Regions from separate parts of the Homo sapiens genome. Here region 1 is linked to region 2. Evidence: fine-mapped expression QTL. A gene starts in region 2. The other region holds a variant in brackets. All regions are shown on one strand. Distances are between the middles of the regions. Region 1 overlaps TXNRD2 (thioredoxin reductase 2). Region 2 holds the start of TBX1 (T-box transcription factor 1).

Region 1 (2,893 bases), 120 kb after region 2:
CTCCACCACGTCACCAATGGCGTAGATGTGGGGCACAGAGGTGGCTTCCCGGGAGTCCACCAGGATCTTCTGAGTGTCGGGGCTAGTATCTACCCCAGCCTTCTCCAAATTCAGACTTCTGGTGTCTGGGACTCGACCTGAAGGAAACAGAGAGGGGGCTGAAAGGTTATCTTCAGTGGCTTTGACCTAGAGCGGTTGTGTTTAAACTGTTTCTCAGAATGTCCACTTAGAGACCGGGTGCAGTGGCTCCTGCCTGTAATCCCAGCACTGTAGGAGGACGAGGTGGGCAAATCACCTGAGGTCATGAGTTCGAGACCAGGCTGGCCAACATGATGAAACCCTGTCTCAGCCAGGCGTGATGGCTCATGCCTATAATCCCAACACTTTGGGAGGCCGAGGCAAGTGGATCACCTGAGGTCTGGAGTTCAAAACCAGCCTGGCCAACATGGTGAAACCCCATCTCTACTAAAAATACAAAATTACCTAGGCGTAGTGGTGCACACCTATAGTCCCAGCTACTCGGGAGGTTGAATCGCTTGAACCCAGGAGGTGGAGGCTGCAGTGAGCTAAGATTGCACCATTGCGCTCCAGCCTGCGCAACAAGAGCAAAACTCTGTCTCAAAAAAAAAAAAAGAAAGAAAAGAAAAGAAAGAAACCCTGTCTCTATTAAAAATACAAAAATAGCTGGGTGTGGTGGCATGCACCCGTAATCCCAGCTACTTGGGAGGGTGAGGCATGAGAATTGCTTGAACCCGGGAGGTGTCGGTTGCAGTGAGCCAAGATCACACCACTGCACTTCAGCCTGGGCGACAGAGTGAGACTGTCTCAAGAAAAAAGAATGTCCACTTAGAACTGGCCAAATGTGAAGCACCAGCAGCGTAGAGGGGCTCCTGGCCTCTGCAGGAGGTGGCAGGCAGGTCTGAAACGGACACTGGTCAGATGACAGCCGGCACAGGAGACAAGGCAGGGGTGCCACCGGTGGAAACTGGAGTCGGCCTTAGACTGGTTCCTGGCACGCGGGAAAGGAAGAGGCACTTGCCAATGCTGGGGCTCCCTGACATCAAAGAGTGCTAAGCGCGGGACTCCAGAATCTTCCGCATGCCCAGGCCTCAGGCCCTGCTGCAGGGCCACCAGCACAGTGCCAGTGGCTCTGGTACTGACTTCATCCGGAGAAACCAGCCCTTCATGGGGAGCTGTTGGCACCTGGCCTGCCTGGCCTCCCTGCATCTGTCTGCAGCACCACAGCCTGATACCATTAGGCAGTGAGATCCATCAGCTCCCAGGCCTCAAGAGTCCAGAGGGGCCTCCTTCAAGGGACA[C/A]CTGCTGGCTCCCAATGGCCTCCTCCCTATCTGGACAAGCTGAAGAGGAGCCAGCCACACCCTGGACTGTACCCCAACAATGCTCAAGTCCTGGGATCTGGCCCTCTGCCCAGGTAGGGCTTGAAGGTCTCTCCCCATTAGGAGAAAGCAAGCCCCCGTAACCCGCTAGTAGAGGGCCAGGTGAGCAGAGCTAGCAGCCGGGTCTCCCACCTGCTCTGTGCTGCAGCCCCTCGTGGCTGCCTGGCACACAGTCCCAGCCTAGAGACCTCAGGGCCAAGGGGAGCTGAGCTAAGGGGCAGTGTCCAAACTACACCGTGCCCATTCTAGGGGGCAGCTGGCTCAGCTGATCCTGCTCTTGGGTGCAAAGGCCAAGAGGGGCAGGGGATGGCCAGTCCAGGGGGTCAGCACAGCTGCCCCCTGCCAGTCTCCACACAGCCTGGGGCCCGGAGAGAGGGCACCGCATGGGCCTCTTCATAGCCGAACAGCCAGCAGAGGTCCCTTTCTCCCCTAACTCAGATGGGTGTGATTTTGCCAGGCCAGCGGATGGCCACAGCAGCTTTTCCCTCCCAACCCCAGGTGCTCTCGGCTCCCAGGGGCTCAGGATGATCCACCAATGGCGAAGGCAATTTTGCCTCAAAAGCATAGCTCCCCTGCTCATCGTGGCTGGGACAAACCAGCTGCTGGCCGGTATGCGGGTGGCGCCCACCTAAGCATCTGGAAGCTGAAGCTCCCGTGAGAGGGAACCCTTAAGTCTCCAGCTGCTGTCCCGGGGCAGGAGTCAAAACATACCAACTTGGCTAAGCCAGCTTGCGGGAGGCCGGCTCCAGCCTCTGTGCTCTGCTCAGCCGCAGGAATTGGGTGCCGGGAGGGCTGGCACCGGTCGGGGATCAGCCCAGACACAGGGGATGCCAGCCCACATCAGAGGAAGGAGCTGGGCCCCATGGGCAGGGCTGGGGCACGAAGGAGGGGCTGTGGTCCCTGCAGGCCGGGGGCTCACGCTCAGCCGTCTGGTCCCTCTCCAACCTGGTGTCCAGCCCACCAGGCCCAGCACTTCCTGGTGCCTGCTCCGTGCCGGAACAGAACATCTGACGCTGCACCCACACTCTCCTCTGCACGCTTGCCTGGCTGGTCCTGGGAAGCCAAGAGCACTCATCATGTTCCTCATGGTAACTATGGCACTATGGCAACTACAGACCTTGCAGGTGCTGACCAAACCCTGTCCCCAGGTCCCGAAGGAAATAAAGATAAATTTAAAAGTAGTCACAAGAGATAAAAGAGGCATGGAAATAGGTGGCCCATCCAAAGCCAGGACTCTTCCGCACATGCTCTGTGGATCACTCTGGGAAGTCGGTGGGAATGTAATGGAGCCACTAATGTGAAAGGCATGACAGCTGGACAGGCTGGATGGCCAGGGGAGAGTGGGCTGCGCGGCACAGACACGCCTGGCCCTGCAGGGACTCCACAGCCCTTCGGGAATGAACAGCAAAAGAAGAGTGAGTGGCCTGTGGCAGGCAGCAGGCTCAGCCCTGAGGAGGGCAGCCGAGGGCACAGTGGGGTTAGAAGCTGGGCTGGTG
Region 2 (2,879 bases):
CCCGCTGTCTCCCCGAGCCAGTGCGTTCAGCATCGCCTCTCTGGTTGCAGCGGAGGCGGCGGAGCGCACCGCCCACCAGGGCTCAGGGTCCTCCGACCGGGTGAAGCTTCGCTGGCTGCCAGGATCCCCGGCAGGGATGCACTTCAGCACCGTCACCAGGGACATGGAAGGTGAGCCTCCAGGCCGTGTCTACACTGGCCCGCCCGCCAGACCCCCTGCCTCAGCTGCTGTGGGGCCCGGGTGCAAAGTAGGTGGAGGCAGCTCTTGGTAGCGTGGGCTCCAGGCTTCTGGCTGCGATTCTGGGGCAGAGAGGAAGAGCCGGCATCCCGCCCACAGCCTGTCCCCTCACCAGCCTGGGGGCCCAGCTTGGAGATGGGCACTCAGGTATACACAGGCCCGGAAGAGGGCGAGTGAGGCTGGGAAGGAGAGCAGAGGTGGCCGTGAGCCTGGAGAGGGGGGAGGAAAGTTAATAAGAGAGGAGAGAGCGGGAGAGTTTCACAGAAGGAGAGAAAGCCTCGAGGAAGCCGTGGAGACGAAATTGAGCAAAGGGGAGAAAACACAAAAAACCCAAAGAAGAAGGTAGGGGAGAAACAGAAGGACACGAAAAGGCAATAAAAAGCAAGAGCGAAAGAGAAGAGAGAAAACGAAGGGAAAATTTAAGACAGAAAGCGAAGTCATAAAAAAGAAAAAAAGGAAAGACTTTAGTTTTTTTTTTTTTAAAAAGAAAAACATAAAAAACAAAGGACATACAAAAATAAGAGGAAAGGCACCGACTAAAAGAAAGACAAAGAATGATTAAAAATAAAGTGAAAAGGAAGGCGAGGATGGAGGAAAAGGGGAAGAGGCGGAAAGTAAAACAGAAATAAAGAGAAACTACAGAGATAGGGGAAGAAAAAAGATGATCGGGAGGGAAAATTTAAATGAGGACGACAAAGGTAAAATAACAAATTAGGAAAAGAACGTCTGGGAGAGAGAGAGGAGAAACGCACGCGGGCGGGCGGCAGAGCGAGGGCCGGCCGACGGGCCCGGCGCACCGGTGAGCCGGTCCGGGCGGTCGGGGGGCCCCGGGCCGAGCGAGCCGCGGCGGGCGGGCTGGGGGCCGGGGAGGGGGAAGGGGCGGGGGAGGGGCGAGGGCCGGGGGAGGGATCTAGTCCATTGTCTCCGCGCGGGGGTGGGGGGGCCCCGGGCGGGGCGGGGCGGGGCGCCTCCTCGGGGCCGGCCTGCGGTGTGGGGCTGCACGGCCCGGGGCGCACGCAGCGCGGCGCCCGCCACTCGGCCCGCGGCGCGGGGCAGCGCTCAGCTTGGTGGCGGGGGCGGCGGCGGCGGCCCGCGGGTCATGATCTCCGCCGTGTCCAGCCCGTGGCTCACGCAGCTCTCGCATTTCTGCGACGTTGCAGCCTTCACGGCCAGCAGCCTGAGCAGCCTGGGGGCCGCGGGGGGCTTCCCGGGCGCCGCGTCGCCCGGCGCCGACCCGTACGGCCCGCGCGAGCCCCCGCCGCCGCCGCCGCGCTACGACCCGTGCGCCGCCGCCGCCCCCGGCGCCCCGGGCCCGCCGCCGCCGCCGCACGCCTACCCGTTTGCGCCGGCCGCCGGGGCCGCCACCAGCGCCGCCGCCGAGCCCGAGGGCCCCGGGGCCAGCTGCGCGGCCGCAGCCAAGGCGCCGGTGAAGAAGAACGCGAAGGTGGCCGGTGTGAGCGTGCAGCTAGAGATGAAGGCGCTGTGGGACGAGTTCAACCAGCTGGGCACCGAGATGATCGTCACCAAGGCCGGCAGGTCAGGGCGCCCCTCCCCACGCCGCGACCCTCCCCACGTGCTGCCGCCAGGGCTGCGGGCCTCCGCCTGATCCGCGCGAGCGGGGCCGAAAGCCGGGTCGGGGGCGCGGCCTGGCCACCTGCGGGCCCCTCTGGGCCCCGCTGCCTCCTTCGCTGTTCGCCGTCCCGGCTCCGGCGACAGCCGCCCGGCGCTCCCCTCCTAACACCTATCCTCCGCCGGGGCGGGAGGAGACGGCGCGGGCCGCACGGGAACGGCGAGGAGCCCCGCGGGACTCGCCCGCCCGCCCCGCAGCCCCAGGACGCCGCGCGGCCCAGAAACCGGCCCGGCTTGGGGCGCACCCGGCTGGGGGCAGGCAGCGGCGTCCAGGGGGCCTCACCGCCCGGCCGACTCCTAGTAAATCCCACCTCAAGAAAACTCTGGTTCAGTTCTGGAGTTCAGTCTATGCGGGCAAGATAAAGAGCGGCAGCCGGGCAACTCTCTGGACACTTTCAGGAGAGGATTACCCTTAAAAACAGCGTGCACTGTTGCGTGGAAGTTGCTACCCAGTTTCCTTCAACCTAGATCCCTATAGTTGTGGGGCCTGGCTCTGTATCCAGCGGCCCGTCACCTCCCAACCGGCCTGTATTTGTTTTAAAGACCAAGAGACAAGGGGAACAAGTTTTGCAGATGCACCCGATTTGACCGGTAGACAAAGGCGGGTGCCGCGCTGTGTCTAATGTACACACCAGCTCGGAGTCCGAACAGCCAAGGGGAGCTCAGGGCCTGTTTGCAAAGCCTTCTCGTGGTTTCTGTTTCCCTGCTGCCGGCGTCCTTTCTGAGGAACCTGGGCCTGTGCTCTGCTCCAGCTCTGTGGTTTTTTTCCAGGCCCTCCTTGCTGTCCCCAGGCACACAGGCCCTCCTGAGGACAGCGGCAGCCCAGCCGCTGGCTCAGGCCAGCCCGGCAAGGGCCTTGTCGGCGCTGGGCTTCACCCGGGAGCCCACGTCCCGCAGCACCCTCCAGCCTGCAGAGGCTTCGGGTGGGGGAGGGAGCGGGCCTGTCCTAGAGGCTGGCTCCTGGCATCTGTCTTCTGCCCACCGCCTGCAGGGAGTTGCTTGTGAGGGGAGGC

Evidence for each region. PIP is the estimated chance that this variant, and not a neighbour inherited with it, causes the effect.
Region 1: its variant is the best candidate, but not a certain one, in a credible set for the expression of TBX1 in skeletal muscle (GTEx, PIP 0.64).

The regions. Positions count from the first base shown.
Region 1 is chr22:19,883,325-19,886,217 of GRCh38, forward strand. It overlaps TXNRD2 (thioredoxin reductase 2), which reads right to left. Exons shown (of 18, transcript NM_006440.5): 12 at 1-137. Among named protein-coding and RNA genes, the nearest start is that of RTL10, 30 kb to the left of the region's middle. The variant C/A (reference allele first, on the strand shown) is at 1,320.
Region 2 is chr22:19,759,508-19,762,386 of GRCh38, forward strand. TBX1 (T-box transcription factor 1) reads left to right here and starts at 1,271. Exons shown (of 7, transcript NM_001379200.1): 1 at 1,271-1,773. The coding sequence starts at 1,337. RefSeq lists an enhancer at 2,326-2,879.